2 separate regions of the Homo sapiens genome follow, and region 2 is linked to region 1. Evidence: fine-mapped expression QTL. A gene starts in region 1. The other region holds a variant in brackets. All regions are shown on one strand. Distances are from middle to middle. Region 1 holds the start of PCMTD1 (protein-L-isoaspartate (D-aspartate) O-methyltransferase domain containing 1). Region 2 overlaps PXDNL (peroxidasin like).

Region 1 (12,300 bases):
TTTTAGATCATAAGGTAATATAGCCTAGTCAAAGAGGATAGCTCAGTTTAGAAAATCTGGTAAGCCAAGTATATTCTAATTATTTAAATTTTTAAAAATAATTAATAAATTATTTTTGACTTTGAGCTCATATTTTTTGAAACAAACGAGAAATTTTTCTTTGAGTTATACTCTCAGGTCTCCTATCTACAGGATGATTAAAATATTCTGGAATCTCACATATAGTCAAATCATTGAGGAGGCTCTGTGGGTCATAAGCCATTGGTTGTGAGAGGCTTGTTGTCCTAGCTGGGATGGACCCTTCAGTTCTGGAAGTTCTGCAGATTCGATTCTACATGTGGGGCATGAGGAAATGAGGCAAAGGTGGAAACCCCAAGTGGAAAACTCCTGCCTATGTGTAGCATGCATCCATTTCCCCTGAGGTTTTGCCACCTGCTATGATGCTGTTTGGTAAACAGATTTTGGCTTGTTTTACTGCTCAATGAATCCATATTCCTCTTTTCCATTTATAGTGTCGGGAGGAAATTAGGGTCATTGCTGTACAAGAAAAGTCTGCTTTTTGCCCTGCCAAAAACTTCATTACATCACCAAGGCAAGGAATCACACAATTGGCTATCTGCTAAAATACATTAGGGGAAAAGAAAAAGGTGTAAAATAAAAATACAGTTGCCCCTCGGTATCCATAGGGGGTTGGTTCCAGGACTTCCCACCCTTGGATACCAACATCTGGATGCTCAAATCCCTGATATAAAATACGGTAGTATTTGCATATAACCTATGCACATCCTCCCATATATGATAAATAATGTCTAGATTACTAATAATATCTAATATAATGTAAATGTTATATGAAGTCTTCCTTTCCTGTTTACCTTGTCTGGTGCTTTTGTTTTCTTTTTCTTTTTTGGGGGGGGGATGGAGTGTCACTCTGTCGCCCAGGCTGGAGTGCAGTGGCGCAATCTTGGCTCACTGCAAGCTCCGCCTCCCAGGTTCACGCCATTCTCCTGCCTCAGTCTCCCGAGTAGCTGGGACTACAGGTGCCCGCCACCACGCCCAGCTAATTTTTTGTATTTTTAGTAGAGACGGGGTTTCACCGTGTTAGCCAGGATGGTCTCGATCTCCTGACCTCGTGATCCGCCTGCCTCGGCCTACCAAAGTGCTGGGATTACAGGTGTGAGCCACCGTGCCCAGTCGTCTGGTGCTTTTTTTCTTTGATATTCCTGAACTTAAACAGTAGCTAGGGGCAGGCACGGTGGCTGACACTAGTAATCCTAGCACTTTGGGAGGCTGAGGCAGGAGGATCACTTGAGGCCAGGAGTTTGAGACCAGCCTGGGCAACATTATGAGACTTCCATCTCTACTAAGAATTTAAAAATTAGCTCCATGATGTGGCACATGCATGTAGTTCCAGCTGCTTAGGAGGCAGAGGCAGGAGGATTGCTTAAACCCAGGAGTTCAAGACTGCAGTGAGCTATGATCACATCACTGCATTCCAGCCTGGGCAACAGAGTGAGACTCTGTCTCCAAAAAATACAACAACAAAAAACGGTAGCTAGGAACAAAAACCATAAGCTAATTCATGCACTGGCATTAATGGTCTATTAACATATATTTTGTGAAAATTAACCATTTCTTGGTTTATTAAAGTCTTGCCTAAGATATAAGTATATAAAAAATATGACTGAAGCTTTTGTCTCTGGTAGGAAATTCAGCATGTATTGTTTAGGGAATAATGATCAAACAAAAGTCTACACATTTAGTACAGATGCAACCATCCATTTTTGGGGGGAATATTTTCCATCTGTGGTTGGTTGACTCTATGGTGTGGAACCCATGGATATGGAAGGCCAACTATATAAACTAATATGTCAGAGATGTATCTCATTTTCCAACCTTTTAATTAGAAACCAAGGGAAGCTAAGAACACAGAAAGTCCTCCTGCCTAAAACAATCTAGCTATAGCTTACTCCTGAGGCCTCAAATTCCTTATAAGTAATAGAACATCATTATTTAATTCCTTTGTAAAAATTGTAGATTGAGTTTTTAAGAACTGTTTAAATAAAAATATTCCTGGAGGGAAATAAAGCTGATTTCATATATTAAGTATCTTGTCATTAACTTTTTTTTTTTTATCACATGGTCTTTCTAACATGGTTCTAGCTGAGTCCTGTGTCCAGCAGGACACATTGCAGATTAGGAGAAGAAAGGTGGGGTCAAAGGACAGCACTGATGGAGAAGGCATGGATGACACCATAGAGGGGGCACCCGCACAGCTGCAGGCAGCCTGAGGGCACTGCTTACTGAGGTTACGGAAAAGAAAGGAGGGAGGATAGCTGCAATACATGCTGCTCATGTTACACACTGGTTTATAGCTAGTCCTGGCAGCAGGGGCAGTGGAAACAGTGTGATCCAACCACCTGTGTTTTTTAGACTACATTTATCACTTAGCCATGACCTTCAAGTTGGGCAACACTGAACACTTTTCCAGGGACTTTGGTGTGGATCACGCTCTGTAAATATCTCCTTGAAGGAACACAGAATTGAAATAACATTTTGAGGTATTTTTGCTGAAAAAAGAGTTCATTATCGAGGTTAGCTTTTGTTTTAGGATTTTTCATTTCAAAGTCTCTGTTCTGCCCTAATAATGAATTTGTTGTCACAGCTCCTATTTTTACTATTATTTTTAGCAAACTATTCTATTTAGTGGAATTAAAAAAAAAAAGATCAGTTGGTTCTAGTCAACTCTTCATAATTGCTCTGTTCATCAACCTAGAGCCAAGAAGAATCCATACATATGAATTATCATTTCAGTGCCTGGACTTACTACTGTGGTTCAGTATCTGACCAAGAAAGACAGGTTTACTGACCAAAGCCTTTTTCATCTTCATTTCAGAATTCAAATGTCATACTTAAAAACACACATACATACATATAATGTGCACACACACACACACATAAACACAGTAACTTCATTTACACTATGAATCACTAAAGCAGACTCTGAAATGGTTTCACCTAACTACAGTAATAGTTATATACAGCATAATTTTTAGTTCTAATACAAGGTACTTGCGTCAGCTACATTTACATAAAAGTGAACACTTAAGTTTTGGCTCCTTGCTGGCTGTTGCATCCAATCTAATGACCACCAAAATCTGGCTGCAGTCTATCTTTCTAGGCTTAGCTCCCATTATCCTTTTTGCATTCTATGTTCTAGCTAAATCAGATTAATCTCTGCTCTTTGAAAACAAATGATCTATGTAAGCGTTATTCTTTTATATTCCATGTTCCTAAAATAGCTATTCTCTTTATCTCCATAATTCAAAAATTCTATTCAAATTTCAAAGCTTGATTCAAATTTGACTTCTGCCATGGAACACTACTATGGAGCAAGAGTATTTTATTTGTACCCTTACTATTATGTCAAGGGTCACTTTCCTCCTTCTATTATTTGAATGTAAGTTTATTAAGACAGAAGCTATATCATATATTATTGCAATATCCTCAGCATCTATCATAGTGTCAGAAAATGTTTATTGAACTTTAATAGATTCTTTAAAAAATATTAAATTTTACATATACATTAAAAAGATGTTTATCCACAGTTTTGATGCACTTAAGTTTACAAGCAGAAGTTTTCCTTTTTCTCCACTCCATGATTCTGTTTTTTAAGAAGCAGAATTTTTAATAAAGGAAAGATATTTATATAGATTAAGCACCATATAAGAGTAATTTTAACTTGTGAGTTAAAGTCACTTTTTGTTTACTGTAGACAATAAATTATAAATGCTTATTTTTCTAAAAGAAATTCATTTTTTGATAACTTATATTTCCTTTTATTGGAAGATTATCCTAGCATTAAAATCTATGTAATTGAGGGATTATATGTGCAATTTAAAATAAAATTATGCTTTCCCAAAGTCATTTAATCCTATTAATTGTCAAGTGAATATTTCAGAAATTACTGACCTTTTTAATACTGAAAATGAAATCTGCCTGTGCAGACTACATCCAATTAGAAACTAACTCCTGGGCTCAAGTAATCCTCCCATCTCAGCTTCTGGAATAGCTGGGACTACAGGCATGCATCACCACACTCAGGTAATTTTTAAATTTTTTGCAGAGATGAGGTCTCACTATGTTGCTCAGGCTGATCTTGAAATCTTGCAACTTCTGAGCTCAAATGATTCTCCCACCTCTGCTTCCTATAGGGCTGGGACTATAGTCGTGAGCCACTGTGCCTGGCCAATGACAATTCTCTTTAAGAGAGAAAATACTTCTGTTTTTGCTTTTTTTTTTTTTGCAGGGGGAGGGGGATGGTGAGGTAGGGGAGGTGATGAATTTAACTGTACTGAAAATGGTACAAGGAAATCAAACTGCAGAAAAAAACAGTTCCACATTTAGTTACATTTTAGTTTTGGGTTTTCCCCAGACATTGCAGGCCAAATTAGAGTTAAGATGAGGAAATCCTTTCAGTCCTCACAGACCAGACTTGGCTTTATAAAACATAATCAAGTCCCACTATACAACCTAGGTGTTAGGAAGCAACTAGAGTTTTCAAGGTAGATCTGGGCAACACGCAGACACCTCCATTTCTGAGGCTGAAGGAAACATGCACCAGTGCTAACTGCCACGCATATGAAAAATGTGAACTCCTAGCACGGTGACAGTAGCTGTATGCTGAATACCATTTAATTTAATAAGCATTTGTTTGTTGAATACCTTATGCATTCAAATAACAGAGCACTTCTGATACAACAATGCTTCAGCCTACACAGTATTCTGAAAGGAGTCCCAAATAGCTCAATTTTACTTTGGGTATTTTCTGCTTAATAATAAAAGTGAAGCAACCTCGTATGAAGAATTAAGTTATTACAGTAAGTGTTATTGCTGTTGCCAGGACCAAACTTACTGTAACAATGTATCAAGAACTCTAGGAATAAACTGTGTGTGGGTTATCTAAATTTATCAAAGTCTAAATAAATCTCTAAATGATTCTAGATGATAATTTAAAATTTAAATTACTCATTCAACAAATGCAGAGTATCAGTGTTGTAGCAGCCACTGTATCAGGCCCTGCAGAGAAATAGTGAGCATACTGGGTATGTGCCCAACTTTCATGATTACAAATTAGTAGGAAGTCACACACAAGAAGTGAATTATAGCCAGACGTGGTGGCTCATGCCTGTAATCCCAACACTTTGGGAGGCCGAGGCGGGTGGATCACTTGAGATCGGAGTTTGAGGCCAGCCTAGCCAACAGGGGAAACCCCATCTCTACTAAAAATACAAAAATTAGCAGGGGGTGGTGGTGCGCTCCTGTGATCCTAGCTACTTGGGAGGCTGAGGCAGAACTGCTTGAAGCCGGGAGGTGGAGGTTGCAGTGAGCAGAGGTTGCCACTGCACTCCAGCCTGGGCAAAAGAGCAAAAGACTCTGTCGCCCCCACCCACAAATGAATTATATGTGTAAGGTATGGAGGCATAATCAGAAATTACGTGAAGGTAGAGATGGGGTGTGCCTACCACAGGAAAATTACAGGTGATAGAGTGCTTTACTTGCTGTTCAACTACTCACCCACAAGACTAGCATTTGGTGTTGTTTATTAAGAAGGTATTTACTAGCAGTCTTATTTAAAAAATGACCTGTGTTTAACTTTCCAGCCGCAGAAGAGAAAAAAGGTCTAGAACCCTGAAAAATTCCCATAGCAGAAGGAAGAAAGTAAAGGAAAATATGCTTTTAAAAAATGGAGAGAAAACAGGGGAAACGGCTGTAAGAGTTGTTTAATGATTTTAGCTATTTTCCTTAGATTACCATTTGTACTTTTTTTGTTTGTTTATGGTAAGATAGTTTTCATGTGCCAAAATTTCTGCTTGGACTAACAGAAAATTCATCCTGTAAGATTGTTATATGATCCCACAACGGTTAGGAGTGCCCTGGGTCCAGGCAGAAATCCAAAGATGGAGCTAATAATGTGACCCGCAGCTCTACTCCAGAATGCAGATGAATAGAGATTTTGAACAGTTCGGAGCTCAATGTCCACTGAATATGCACTCATACTTTAAACCTAAATAAAGTGAAGCCTTTGAGTTAAATGGCAGAGCGCCTCAGCAGCAATTTTGCTCGTTTTCAAGTTCTTATTTCGTGATTTGAAGCTTTTGACCTTGCTAGCATGTTCTTTCTGAACGCTTTTGCAGATGGTTGGTTATGGTGGGGAGTAGTAACCCTAGCATAAAGACGTTCTAATTCTAACTTACCTTAGGTAACCTATAAGGGTAGCTTACGCTCACTCTCATACTTGAAAATCAAAACCGAACAGAATTCACACGATGGAAGCAAATCATGCTACAACCTACTATTAGAGACTGAAGGGAAACGCACAAAGATTAATGAACAACAAAGAACACTTCAAAAAGTACAGTATTTGGAAAAGACATGCCTTTATGTACACTAAAACTAATTTAAAAAATTAAATGCAGTTTGCTAGGAGTCTTACAAGTATTAACAGCATGTTCACTGCTTAGGATCCTTAGTAGCAATATTTTCCCGGCTCGCCTGCCCCTATGCCTCATTTCCTCTTCTTTTTTTTTTTGAGATGGAGTTTCGCTCTTGCCGCCCAGGCCAGGTGCCATCTCAGCACTGCAACCTCCGACTCCCGGGTTCAAGCGATTCTCCTACCTCAGCCTCCCGAGTTGCTGGGACTACAGGCGCACGGCACCACACCCGGCTAATTTTTGTATTTTTAGTAGAGACGGGGTTTCACCATGTAGGCCAGGCTGGTCTCTAAGTCCTGACCTCAGGTGATCCGCCTGTCTCGGCCTCCCAAAGTGCTGGGATGACAGGCGTGAGCCACTCACCCGGCCCTCTTCTCGACTTTCTATCCCTCCTCCTCAACACCCTTTCCTTCTGGAAATGGGCTTTGGGGTGGTTAACCAAGCCCAGGGAAACTTGCGTGGCCCAGCATCTTCCGTCCGCTGCAGGAGGAGCACACGCCCCCGGCCCGGGTCAGCAAGACGCGAGAAAGCGGCCACGCCGGGCGTCCGGGAGCTGAGGCTGGAGGGCGCCTGGCAGGCAGGGCGGGGCCCAGGCGGCGGGAGTGCTTATGACCGGCGCTGGGGGGAACTTCTGGACGTCAAGGGGCCACTATAAAGCGGCACAGTCTTGAGCCTTCGCTCTTCACCTAAGTCAGTGAGCGCCCTTCGCAAAGCCTCTGTGGAGGTAACCATTGGGGGTTCGCCTCCAAATCCAGGAATGCACCTCAAAAATGCTCCTACACCGTAAGACCGTGTCCTTCAATGCAAAGGGGACTGTGCGGCGAGGCACCGACAAGCCGTAGCCCTGAGACCACTGAAAGCCTGCACCCCAGCGCCGGTGCGAGAACGTGGAGATGGCGGTGGGGAGGAGAGGTGGAGGCCATGCTCTCGCGTGATCTCCCCTACCGCCATCGTCTTCTGGCCTGTCAAGGCCTCGCGTTGTTTGGGCTTGGGGGCGGAGCGAGCCCTGAGGGGGGCGGGGCCAGATGGGGGCGTCTCCCGGCCTTGTTGACTTTGGCGTCCGCGGGGAGCTGCCCCTGTGCCCGTGGTTCTCTGCGCATGCCCGGACCCCGGCGGCTCCGGAGTCCGGGAGGCTCTGGCTGCTCCAGTCGCGGGTCCGGGCCCCGCCTCTCCACTCGGCGGTGGCGTCCGTGTTGTTATTGTGGTGGTAGCGGCGTCTGGCTGCTGCGGACCCCGCCGAGTCCTAGCGCCTGGCCTGCGCGCCGCTGCCCGCGCCACAGGTAACGCCGCCGCCAGTGGGGGCTCGGGGTCGTGGGGTGTGCGAGTCCCGCGTGCTAGGGCCGGGCGGGCGACTGGGATGCGCTTGGAGGCCAGAGGGCCAGGGGGACGGCAGCCGAAGAGTCGGGGGCAGGGGGACTTAAGGGCGGGCAGGTCGGGGGCCAGGAAACTGAGGCGCTGCGGGGCAGGTTGGGGGAAGGACGGGCCGGGGGCGGAGGACTTGGGAGGTCGGGGAGTCGAAAGGGGCCCAGCGAAGCCTGGAGGTCGGGAGCCGGGGTCCCTGGGGCCGGGGAGGTCGGGGGCCCGAGGGAGGCCGGGGCGCCGCGTCCTCGGCCCGTCCTCGGCTCGTCCTCGGCTCTGACCTGGGCTTGGGGACCAGAGTCCCGAGGCTGGCGTCTTGAGATGCCCGCGGGCCCCTTAGGGCCGTTTTGGATCCGCCCAGTGACTTCTGTTTTGGTTTTGGAGGCAGAGAATCCAGTCTACGTAGACTCGGGGAAGTCTCGGGGGCTGGGAGGGGACTGAGAGGTTATAGCAGGCGCCAAGGCCTCTTTTTGTGTTTTTGAGCGTCTACTACCGTTCCGGGGAAGTGCAGTGCCCGCGTTTTGCTTGGGGAATTTCAGACACCGGCATGGGGAGGACCCACGGGCAGAACCCGAGGGAGTAATTTTGCAAATCCAAGATTTTTTGGAACTTCTATAATTTTGTTTTCGTGTGTCCTCTTTTTAGAATCGAGAAACCAGAGATATATTTTTAACATTACAAATCAGAAGAATTTGCTACGGAGGAAAAAAGTATGCTTTTAGCAGTGTTTTTCCCCTATTTATTTTTTTAATTACAAAAGTACTGCTTGCTCCTTGAGAAAAACATGAAGCAGCCAAACAATGAGGAAACCTGCCCTCTCTCGCGCCCTTCCCCCCATATTTCTCCTTCTTACTACCCAGGGTAGCCAGTCTCCAAGTGTGGTGGGTAGTTATTCAGGATTTTTTTTTTCTGTGCATTTAATGAGTGTGCTTTAGAAACAAGATTGGGATCATATATAGTACAGTATATCGTTTTATTAGCCAACAATGCATCATGGATATTCCTCCATTTTATTACACACCTCATTATTTTAAAAAACATTATTACTATGTATTAGAGAATCCAATCTACGTAGGCTTGGGGAAGCCTTTTCTTCATTGTTAAACATGGTCGCCAAGTTTTCAATAATCAGTAGCTTTGAAAAGGGCTACAAGCCAATATTTTGAAACAATGTGGCAAAACTTTCAGAATGTCTGCGGCCAGACGACATTACTTTCGTATTAAGCAGATTAATATGTTTACGTATTGCTTAATGGTAGTTTACATGAGGCTAGATGACTCCATAAAACATAAAGTTGCTGAATTAGTTTACTTTTTGGTTTTTTTTATTTCATTTTTTTCTAAGTAAATTTTAATTCCATATGGTCAGTTGAACACTTGTAATTTCTTTAACATGAAGTAGCTAATATGTGAAGGAAAGGTAAGGTAGGAAAGATAGAAAGCTAGTGGCCCTAGCCTGAGACAAGAAAAAAAAAGCAACAGGGATTAAATATTTTGGTAAGTAAGCTATAGGGAGTAAACTGGAAGTGGAGGGGTGATACTACACTGCCTACTATTAAGTAAGACAGAAAGCTAGGAAATTCCCATTGCATACTGTATTTCTGTGTGCAGAAGAGCTGGAGGCTTTGTTGATTTAATCACTAGCTTGTATTTATTAAAAATGTACTGTGTTCATCTTGGTGCTAGCTTCCAGGGAAAGAACAACTGAGGAAGATAATCACGAACAACGTCTGGTTCTAAACATGCATAGCCTGAAATTTTAAGCCAAATTGTGTAGTATTTTATGATTTGGAAACTGTGCTCGAAAGGAATAAAAAAATCCATGACATTTTAGTTATTTTTGGTAATAATATGCTCATATATTTCTCATAACAACATAAATGACATTCTTCTCATTCTATAGAGTAATAAATAGAGGCTTTGAGTAAAAGAACTGCTCAAGATCCCATTGCTTTTTTTTTTTTTTTGTAATAGTGCGTGTTTATATTCAGGAGTGCTTAATCCAAGAACCTGTGTTTTCTGCTCTTGTTTTACCTCCTATGAACGAAAAATTGTTGCCCTTACGGTTTTTTCTGCTTTCTTTGAAATGTTCCTTACAGAATAACTACATGAATGTAATCACATGCATTTAAAATAGTCTAGAGAATATAGTGTGAAACTATAATGGTATTTTTTTAGATGAGGTTTCTGGTGGCATATTACTAAAATTTTAAACTCCTTGATCTTATGCTGTTAACCAAGAAGATGGGGATTTGTGTTACTTTAGACACTGCTGGGTGCCATGGTAAATTGGGATGTTATTGTAAATTGTAGCTCTCACAGCTGCGTATTGCTTACAAACTCGGAAGGATAGTCTCATATCAGTAAACATTTTTATGAACGTAGTTGAACTTTTTTGTAAATTAGTGTGCTGGAAAGAATACCAAGAGGGCCCTAAAAAAGTCTAAAAGGATTAAAATTTACTTATGTAATTATTGGTATTTTAAAATATTTGGTAGTCACTTAAAATGCATAATGACAGACAATAGGGTGTCATAATATGGTTTATTAATCTTTTTTCATTTTCCACTAGATGTGGCAACTACATAGTTGGAAGAAATGTGGCGGCCGGGGGCAGTGGCTCACGCCTGTAATCCTAGCACTTTGGGAGGCTGAGGCAGGTGGATCGCCTGAGGTCAGGAGTTCGAGTCCAGCCTGGCCAACATGGCAAAACCCCGTCTCTACTAAAAATACAAAAATTAGCCGAGCTTGGTGGTGGGCATCTGTAATCCCAGCTACTCGGGAGGCTGAGGCAGGAGAGTCGCTTGAACCTGCGAGTCAGAGGTTGCAGTGAGCCAAGATCGCTCCACTTCACTCCAGCCTGGTCAAAAGAGTGAGACTCTGTCTCAAAAAAAAAAAAAAAAAAAAAAAAAGAAATGGGACAAATACTAACATTAATAAAGTATGGTCAGTTGTAATCTGTATTTGAGAAGAAACCAAAAATACAGGAAAAGCTTTGACATTTTACTGGCAATTGTTAAGGATGATAATTGGATTCATACCTAAATGGCGTATCTGCCATTGATTATCTCTCGGTCAACGTAACATTGGATGTTGGATGTGAGTGGGTTTTATAATTAGGTGACACAGAAATATTTCAGCCCCCTAAAGACGTTTTTAGAATATGGTAAGATTTTTTCAGCTGTTGAAGTGGGGAAGGATTGTGAATCAAACACTATGTGTATGTGTATTCTCAAAAATTAATGAGAGGTATTGCTGATGGGAAGACATAGCATATTTTCCAGTTTAACCTGAAAATCCTTTTTGGAACATTATGCACGGGTAGCCAGAAATAACTCAACTTTATGTCTTGATACAAGACATGCATCAGGTATGATTTCTAGAGCTTAAAATATTCTTGGAGTTTAAAAACTAATTTGCATAAAACACTCTTCTGTGTTTTCTACTGAGCACTCTTCAGTAACTTGCAGGCTCTTAAAAACCTTTAATGATAATCATGTTATCAATTGATGAAGTCAGTTCAGTTTATAATCTAAAGTTATAATGAGCATTGAAAGAGCTGTAGAATGTGAAATGCTGTGAAGGTCTGTCTTGGTGACTTTCACAAACTGGCATCTCCAACTCTCCCTTCTTGGGGCCTTTGTTTGTTTTTCTCTCTCACTTCCTGAAGTATAGATAGATGTTGCCTGTAGGTGTTACCTTAGGTTTAGTTCTTTTCCTTTTTAGAGTTTGTTCTCTTCTTTGGCAATCCCACACAGATCCGTGGTTTCAACTGCTCATTCCCCTCACCCTCTTTGCTCAGGCTTCCACTTGTGTATCATCAGCCTTATTTTCATTCCCAAGCTTCAGATTTGCCAATGTTGTTCTCCCTGATCAACTTAGTAGCTGTCATTTTGTAATCTTGAATCAGTAGATTCAGAATTAAACTTTTTTTGCAAGCCTGATTCTTCTTGCTTGTTTATATTAATGACCTTTGCATTTTCTTAGTCATCTAGACTCAAAATCAAAAGGTCATCCTTGGTTCTTCTCTCTCTCCTTTTCTTAGAATTTTTTTTTTTTTTGTCATCTTACTGCATTGTGGTTCCTGATTTCTTCTATCTTTCTTCAGTTCTTCCAGCAGCCATATACACAGCAAGAGACATTAATCTCTAGGTTTGTCATTCATTGTGAATACTGCTTATTAATTGTCCTAAATGTAGTCCTGATCATGTTCCCTGCCTGATGACAAGCAAACAAAACAAACCCACTTGGGTGTTTATGTCAGTCAGTGTGCTGAATCCTTTGTTCTCATGTGGTCATTATAATTTATATTATCCCCATTCTACAGGTGAAGAAATTGGAACTTCATGATCTTGAAGGAGTTGTTAGTAGGTAGAAGAGCTCTGGGATTTGAATCCCAACCATGTCTTCTTCCAAGTCTGTGTTCTTGACCACTGTGCCTCTGCTGAGT
Region 2 (8,000 bases), 100 kb after region 1:
GAGTTGGTCACAAAGATCACAAGCTTTAAAGGGCAATAAAGATCACAAGGCAAAGGGCAAAATTAGAATTACTGATGAAGGTCTATGTTCAGCTGTGCACATACTGTCTTGATAAACATCTTAACAGAAAACAGGGTTCGAGAACAGAGAACTGGTCTGACCTCAAATTTACCAGGGCGGGATCTTTTCCCCACCCTAATAAGCCTGAGGGTACTGCAGGAGACCAGGGCGTATTTCAGTCCTTATCTCAACCACATAGGACAGACACTCCCAGAGCGGCTGTTTATAGACCTCCCCCCAGGAATGCAATTCTTTTCCTAGGGTCTTAATATTTAATATTCCTTGCTAGGAGAAGAATTTAGTGATATTTCTCCTACTTGCACGTCAATTTATAGGCTCTCTGCAAAAAGAAAAATATGGTTCTATTCTGCCCAACCCCGCAGGCAGTCAGACCTTTGGTTGTCTTCCCTTGTTCCCTAAAATCACTGCTATTCTGTTTGTTTCCAAGGTGCACTGATTTCATATTGTTCAAACACCCGTGTTTTACAATCAGATTTCATATTGTCAAACACATGTTCTATAATCAATTTGTACAATAGTGGTCCTGAGGTGATGTACATCCTCAGCTTACAAAGATAACAGGATTAAGAGAGTAAAGTAAGACAGGCATAAGAAATTATAAGAGTATTATTTTGGGGAACTGATAAATGTCCATGAAATCTTCACAATTTATGTTCAGAGATTGCAGTAAAGACAGGCATAAGAAATTATGAAAGTATTAATTTTGGGAACTGATATGTGTCCATATTAAAATGAAATCTTCACAATTTATGTTCCTCTGCCGTGGCTCCAGCTGGTCCCTCCGTTCAGGGTCCCTGACTTCCCACAACAGTTCTTCCTGCCAGGAATGCATCCTTGGCCATTTTCTCCACACTGAGTCTGCCTGTGCTTGTTCTGCAGAAGCAGCTCAGAGCTCACCTTGGGGAAGCCTTTCTTCTCCCTGTTACTCCCAGGCTGCGTGACACACCTTTCCTGTCTTATCTGAATCAGGGAATATACCACGTGGAATTAGCGTTATTAACTTGTCTTTCTGAGAGACTGAGTTCCTTCAGGGCAGAGAACAGAGAAGATAGACAATATAAAATATATTAACATAAAATATTTTACATACCAACATATTTTATGTTGGGATATTAACATAAAATATGTTGCATGCAGGAATGAGCCAATTGGCCCAGTGAAACTTGAGGGGTGCTGAAAATATTGCCCATTTGAAAGTTTGACATGGGGCAGGCCCTCCATTCTAAGAGTGCTGTGGACCACTCTGTGTTTAACAGGGAGTTGCCTGGACTGAAACGATTTTAGTTGTAAGCCTCACTTACTACCTCACCTGTGTTGATGACTACTTTTACAGAAAAGGCTTGTGGTATGTGCCTGTTCAAAGAGGAAAATAGATTCCAAAGACAAAAATTTCTAGGGAAAATCAGCTAAGGGAGAAAAGAGAATTAGAGGCTAAATATTCTGACAAGCAGATATGAGAAATATTTGAGTGCTGATGTGATGGTTAATCCTGTAATGCTGTGAGGGTTGGGCATGGGTAGGGAGAAACTTACAAAGATCTCCATCTCTCTAGTTGGCACCCTTGTTTTAAGCCAGATGTAGGTGCACAGTAAAATGGTTTGTTCTTCATACCTAGATCAGAATGCCTCCTTACCTGGAGCCGTTCCCTTCCTGGCTCACCTTGCCCTGTTATAGAGAGGCTGATTTTGCCATGGTCTATATTTTGGCCAACTCTAAAGACAAGTATAGTTGAAAAGCTGTTGCAGTGTTGAGAATTTATTTTTAAAATGTTCCAAGTTAGCTAAAAGCAGCCACCAAGTAGGGACTATAACTCTGTTTGCATGGGAATCCTAGACAGCTCTCATGGCACCAGCCCAAGACAACAATCAATTATTATATTTTTACACTTCCCAATGTTGGTTATAGTAATAATTATTTTATTTACTTGTACCTCACATTTTCTCAGGAAGATATCTTTTTTTAAAATTTAATTTAATTTTAAGTTCCAGGATACATGTGCAGGACTTGCAGGTTTGTTACATAAGTAAATGTGTGCTATAGTGACTCGCTGCACCTATCAACCCATCACCTAGGTATTAAACTCCACGTGCATTAGCTGTTTATCCTGATGCTCTCCCTCCCTGCCCTGCCCCCACAGGCTCCTGTGTGTGTTTTTCTCCTCCTTGTGTCCATGTGATCTCATTGTTCAGCTCCCACTTATAAGTGAGAAAAAGTGGTGTATGGTGTTCTGTTCCTGTATTAGTTTGCTAAGGATAATGGCTTCCAGCTCCATCCATGTCCCTGCAAAGGAAATTATCTTGTTCCTTTTTATGGCTGCATAGTATTCCATGGTGTATATGTACTACATTTTCTTTATCCAGTCTATCATTGATGGGGATTTGGGTTGATTCCATGTCTTAACTATTGTGAAGATATGTGTGCATGTATCTTTATAATAGAATGATTTATATTCCTTTGGGCATATACCCAGTAATGGGATTGCTGGGTCAAATGGTATTTCTGATTCTAGGTGATTTATATTCCTTTGGGTATATACCCAGTAATGGGATTGCTGGGTCAAATGGTATTTCTGGTTCTAGGTCTTTGAGGAATCACCACACTGTCTTCCACAATGGTTGAACTAATTTACATTCCCACCAACAGTGTAAAAAGGTTCCTGTTTCTCCACAGCCTTGCCAGCATCTGTTGTTTCTTGACTTTTTAATAATCACCACTCTGATTTGCATCAAATGGTATCTTATTGTGGTTTTGATTTGCATTTCTCTAATGATCAGTAATGTGCCTTTTTTCATATGTTTGTTGACTGCATAAATGTCTTCTTTTGAGAAGTGTCTGTTCATGTCCTTTGCCCAGGTTTTAATGGGGTTGTTTTGTTTCTTCCTTGTAAATTTGTTTAAGTTCCTTGCAGATTTTGGATATTAGGCTTTCTCAGATGAATAGATTGCAAAAATTTTTTCCCATTCTGTATGTTGTCTGTTCACTCTGATGATAGTTTCTTTTGCTTTGCAAAAGCTCTATAGTTTAATTAGATTCCGTTAGTCAATTCTTGCTTTTGTTGCAATTGCTTTTGATGTTTTCATCATGAAATCTTTGCCTGTGCCTATGTCCTGAATGGTATTGCCTAGGTTTCCTTCTAGGGTTTTTATGGTTCTGGGTTTTACATTTAAGTCTTTAATCCATCTTGAGTTAATTTTTGTATAAGGTATAATTTTTGTATAATGAGTCCAGTTTCAATTTTCTGCATATGGCTAGCCAGTTTACCCAGCACCTTTTAATAAATAGAGAATCCTTCCCCCATTGCTTGTTTTTGTCAGGTTTGTTGAAGATCAGCTGATTGTAGATGTGTGGTCTTATTTCTGAGATCTCTATTCTGTTCCATTGGTCTATGTGTCTGTTTTTGTATCAGTACCATGCTGTTTTGGTTACTGTAGCCTTGTTGTATTGTTTGACGTCAGGTAGCATGATGCCTCCAGGTTTGTTCTTTTTGCTTAGGATTGTCTTGGCTATACAGGCTCTTTTTTGGTTCCAAATGAATTTTAAAGTAGTTTTTTTTCTAACTCTGTGAAGAATGTCAGTGGTAGTTTAATGGGAATAGCATTGAATCTACAAATTACTTTGGGCAGTATGGCCATTTTCATGATATTAATTCTTCCTATCCATGAACATGGAATGTTTTTCCATTTGTTTGTGTCCTCTCTTATTTCCTAGAGCAGTGGCTTATAGTTCTTTTTGAAGAGGTCATTCACGTACCTTGTAAGTTGTATTCCTAGGTATTTTATTCTCTTTGTAGCAATTGTGAATGGGAGTTTATTCATGATTTGGCTCTCTGCTTGTCTGTTGTTGGTTTATAGGAATGCTTGTGATTTTTGCACATTGACTTTGTATCCTGAGACTTTGCCAAAGGGGCTTATCAGCTTAATAAGCTTTCAGGCTTAAACAATGGGGTTTTCTAGATATCGGATCATGTCATCTGCAAACAGAGACATTTTGACTTCCTCTTTTCCAGTTTGAATACCCTTTATTTCTTTTTCTTGCCTGATTTCCCTGGCCAGAAGGTCCAATACCATGTTGAATAGGAGTGGTGAGAGAGGACATCCTCGTCTTGTGCCAGTTTTCAAGGGGAATGCTTCTAGCTTTTGCCCATTCAGTGTGATATTTGCAGTGGGTTTGTCATAAATGGCTCTTATTATTTTGAGGTATGTTCTATCAATACCAAGTTTATTGAGAGTTTTTAACATGAATCAGTGTTGAATTTTATCAAAGGCCTTTTCTGTGTCTATTGAGATAATCATGTGGTTTTTATCTTTAGTTCTGCTTATGTGATGAATGACATTTACTAATTTGCATATGTTGACCAGCCTTGCATCCTGGGGATGA[T/C]GCCAACTTGATCATGGTGGATAAGCTTTTAAATGTGCTGCTGGATTTGGTTTGCCAGTATTTTATTGAGGATTTTTGCATTGATACTCATCAAGGATATTGGCCTGAAGTTCTCTTTTTTTGTTGCATCTGTGCCGGGTTTTGGTATCAGGATGATTCTGGCTTCATAAAATGAGTTAGGTAGAAGTCCTTCCTTTTCAATTGTTTGGAATAGTTTCAGAAGAAATGGTACCAGCTCCTCTTTGTACCTCTGGTAGAATTCAGCTGTAAATCCATCTGGTCCTGGGCTTTTTTTTGTTGATAAGCTATGTATTTCTGCCTCAATTTCAGAACTCGTTATTGGTCTATTCAGGGATTTGACTTCTTCCTGGTTTAGTCTTGAAAGGGTGTATGTGTCTAGGAATTTAACCATTTTTTCTAGATTTTCTAGTTTATTTGCATAGAGGTGTTTATAGTATTCTCTGATGGTTGTTTGTATTTCTGTGGGGTCAGTGGTGATAACCCCTTTGTCATTTTTTATTGTGTCTATTTGATTTTTCTCTCTTTTCTTCTTTATTAGTCTAGCTAGTAGTCTATTTTATTAATTTTTTTTTCAAAACACCAGCTCGTGTATTCATTGATTTTTTTGAAGGTTTTTTTTTTTTTGGTTGTTGTTGTTGTGTGTGTCTCTATCTCCTTTCATTTCCACTCTGATCTTGGTTATTCCTTTCATTTCCACTCTGATCTTGGTTATTTTTTGTTTTCTGCTAGCTTTGGAGTTTGTTTTCTCTTAGTTCTCTGGTTCTTTTAATTGTGATGTTAAGGTGTCAATTTGAGATCTTTCTAGTTGTGGGGGTTCATTCAGGCTGGTGGGAAAAATATTAAAGATAGTTATAGTAATAGCCACAAACCTTCTTGGAAGGCCGAGAAATTTGCATAGCTTTAGTAAGGATTATAGCTGAAGGCAACCTGATCCTTACCTTAAGTAAATAGCTTAAAGTGAGTACAAAGGAATGTGGGGAGTTTACCTAATGAGCTTATTTACTCATGTGGTCTTAAGACCAACCTTTGATCATTTGCGGGTGCACGATGTCTCTCTCCAGGGTCGGGGTGACCAGGTTAATTACCCACAGGTGTGTTTAGTCATGACCTTTGTCAATTAATCTTTACTGAATAAATGTAAGTCTCACTGGCAAGTCGGGGCCACGGTTGCAAATAGTGGCCCAGACACTCAGCTGAACTGGCAAAGCAGAGTATCTGTGTGTCAGTGTACTTTATTCATCCATCATTGGGTCAGGGTCTGCAGGACAGACCCCCGCATCTAGCTTTTTGGGCATTTAGTGCTATAAATTTGCCTCTTAACACTGCTTTAGCTGTGTCCCAGAGATTGTGGTACATTGTCTCTGTGTTCCCATTGGCTTTAAAGAACTTCTTGATTTCTGCCTTAATTTCGTTATTTACCCAGGAGTCATTCAGGAGCAGGTTGTTCAATTTACATGTAGTTGTGTGGTTTTGAATGAGTTTCTTTATCTTGAGTTCTAATTTGATTGCACTGTATTCTGAGATACTGTTTGCTATGATTTCAGTTATTTTGCATTTGCTGTGGAGCGTTTTACTTCCAATTATGTGATTGATTTTAGAGTAAGTGCCATGTGGCACCAAGAAGAATGTATATTGTGTTGTTTTCTGGATGGAGAGTTCTGTAGATATCTATCATGTCCACTTGATCCAGAGCTGAGTTCAAGTCCTGAATATCCTAGTTAATTTTCTGTCTTGATGATCTGTCTAATATTGACAGTGTGGTGTTAAAGTCTCCCACTATTATTTTTTGGGAGTCTAAGTCCCTTTGTAGGTCTCTAAGAGCTTTTTTTATGAATCTGGGTGCTCCTGTATTTTGTGCATATACATTTAGGATAGTTATCTCTTCTTGTTGAATTGATCCCTTTACCATTATGTAATGCCCTTCTTTGTCTTTTTGGATCTTGGTTAGTGTAAAGTCTGTTTTGTCAGAAACTAGGATGCTTTTTCCTACTTTCCATTTTCTTAGTAAATTTTCCTCCATCCCTTTATTTGAAGCCTATCTGTGTCTGCACGAGATGAGTCTCTTGAATACAGTACACTGATGGGTCTTGACTTAATTCAGCTTGCCATTCTGTGTCTTTTAATTGGGACAATTAGTCCATTTACATTTAAGATTAATATTATTATGTATGAATTTGATCCTGTCATCATGATGTTGGCTGGTTATTTTGGAGACTTGTTGATGTAGTTGCTTCACAGTGTCATTGGTCTTTGTGCTTCAGTGTGTTTTTGCAGTGGCTGGTAACAGTTTTTCTTTTCCATATTTAGTACTTCCTTCAGGAGCTCTTGCAAGGCAGGCCTGGTGGTGATGAATTCCCTCAGAATTTGCATGTCTGAAAAGGATTTTATTTCTCCTTTGCTTATGAAGCTTAGTTTGGCAGATATGAAATTCTGGGTTGGAAATTCTTTTAAGAATGTTTAATATTGGCCACTAATCTCTTCTGGCTTGTAGGGTTTCTGCTGAGAGGTCTGCAGTTAGTTTGATGGGCTTCCCTTCATAGGGGACCTGGCCTTTCTCTCCAGGTGCCTTTAACATTTTTTCCTTCATTTTGACCTTGGAGAATCTGATGACTGTGTGTCTTGGTGTTGATCTTCTCATGGAGGATCTTACTGGGGTTCTCTGGATTTCCTGAATTTGAATGTTGGCCTGTCTTGTTAGGTTTGGTAAGTTCTCCTGAATGATATCCTGAAGTATGTTTTCCAACTTGGTTCTATTCTCCCCATCTCTTTCAAGTACCCCAATCGGTCATAGGTTCCGTCTTTTCACATAATCCCATAGTTCTCAGAGGTCTTGTTCATTCCTTTTCTTTTCTCTCTAATCTTGTCTGCCTGTCTTGCTTCAGCAAGATAGTCTTCAAGCTCTGAAATTCTTTCTTCTGCTTGGTCTATTCGGTTAATGATACTTGTGGTTGCATTGTGAAATTCTCATGTTGTGTTTTTCAGCTCCATCAGGTCATTTATGCTCCTCTCTAAACTGGTTATTCTGGTCAACAGCTCCTGTAACTTTTTTTTCCATCTTTTGTTGTTGTTGTTGTTGTTGTTGACAGAGTCTTGCTCTGTTGCCCAGGGTAGTGCAGTGGCATGATCTTGGCTCATTGCAGCCTCTGCCTCCCAGATTCAAGTGATTCTCATGCCTTAGCCTCCTGAGTAGCTGGGATTACAGACATGTGTCAGTCACCACGCCCAACTAATTTTTGTATTTTTAGTACAGACGGTGTTTCACTATGTTCGCCAGGCTGGTCTTGAACTCCTGACCTCTAGTGATCTGACCACCTTGGCCTCCCAAAGTGCTGGGATTACAGGCGTGAGTCCTTGTGCCCAGTTCCTATAATGTTTTATCATGGTTCTTAGCTGCTCTACATTGGGTTAGAACATGTTCCTTTAGTTCAGCAAAGTTCATTATTACCCACCTTCTGAAGCCTACTTCTGTTAATTCATCCATCTCAGTCTCTGCTCAGCGCTGTGCCCTTGCTGGAGAGGTG

The links. PIP is the estimated chance that this variant, and not a neighbour inherited with it, causes the effect.
Region 2: its variant is fine-mapped to the expression of PCMTD1 in whole blood (INTERVAL, PIP above 0.99).

Annotation. Positions count from the first base shown.
Region 1 is chr8:51,894,401-51,906,700 of GRCh38, reverse strand. PCMTD1 (protein-L-isoaspartate (D-aspartate) O-methyltransferase domain containing 1) reads left to right here and starts at 7,665. Exons shown (of 6, transcript NM_052937.4): 1 at 7,665-7,771. PCMTD1-DT (PCMTD1 divergent transcript) reads right to left here and starts at 7,386. Exons shown (of 4, transcript NR_189279.1): 1 at 6,855-7,386. RefSeq lists enhancers at 6,549-6,608, 6,909-6,968, 7,139-7,428 and a silencer at 7,469-8,158.
Region 2 is chr8:51,793,449-51,801,448 of GRCh38, reverse strand. All of the region lies in intron 1 of PXDNL (peroxidasin like), which reads left to right. Among named protein-coding and RNA genes, the nearest start is that of PXDNL, 12 kb to the left of the region's middle. The variant T/C (reference allele first, on the strand shown) is at 4,459.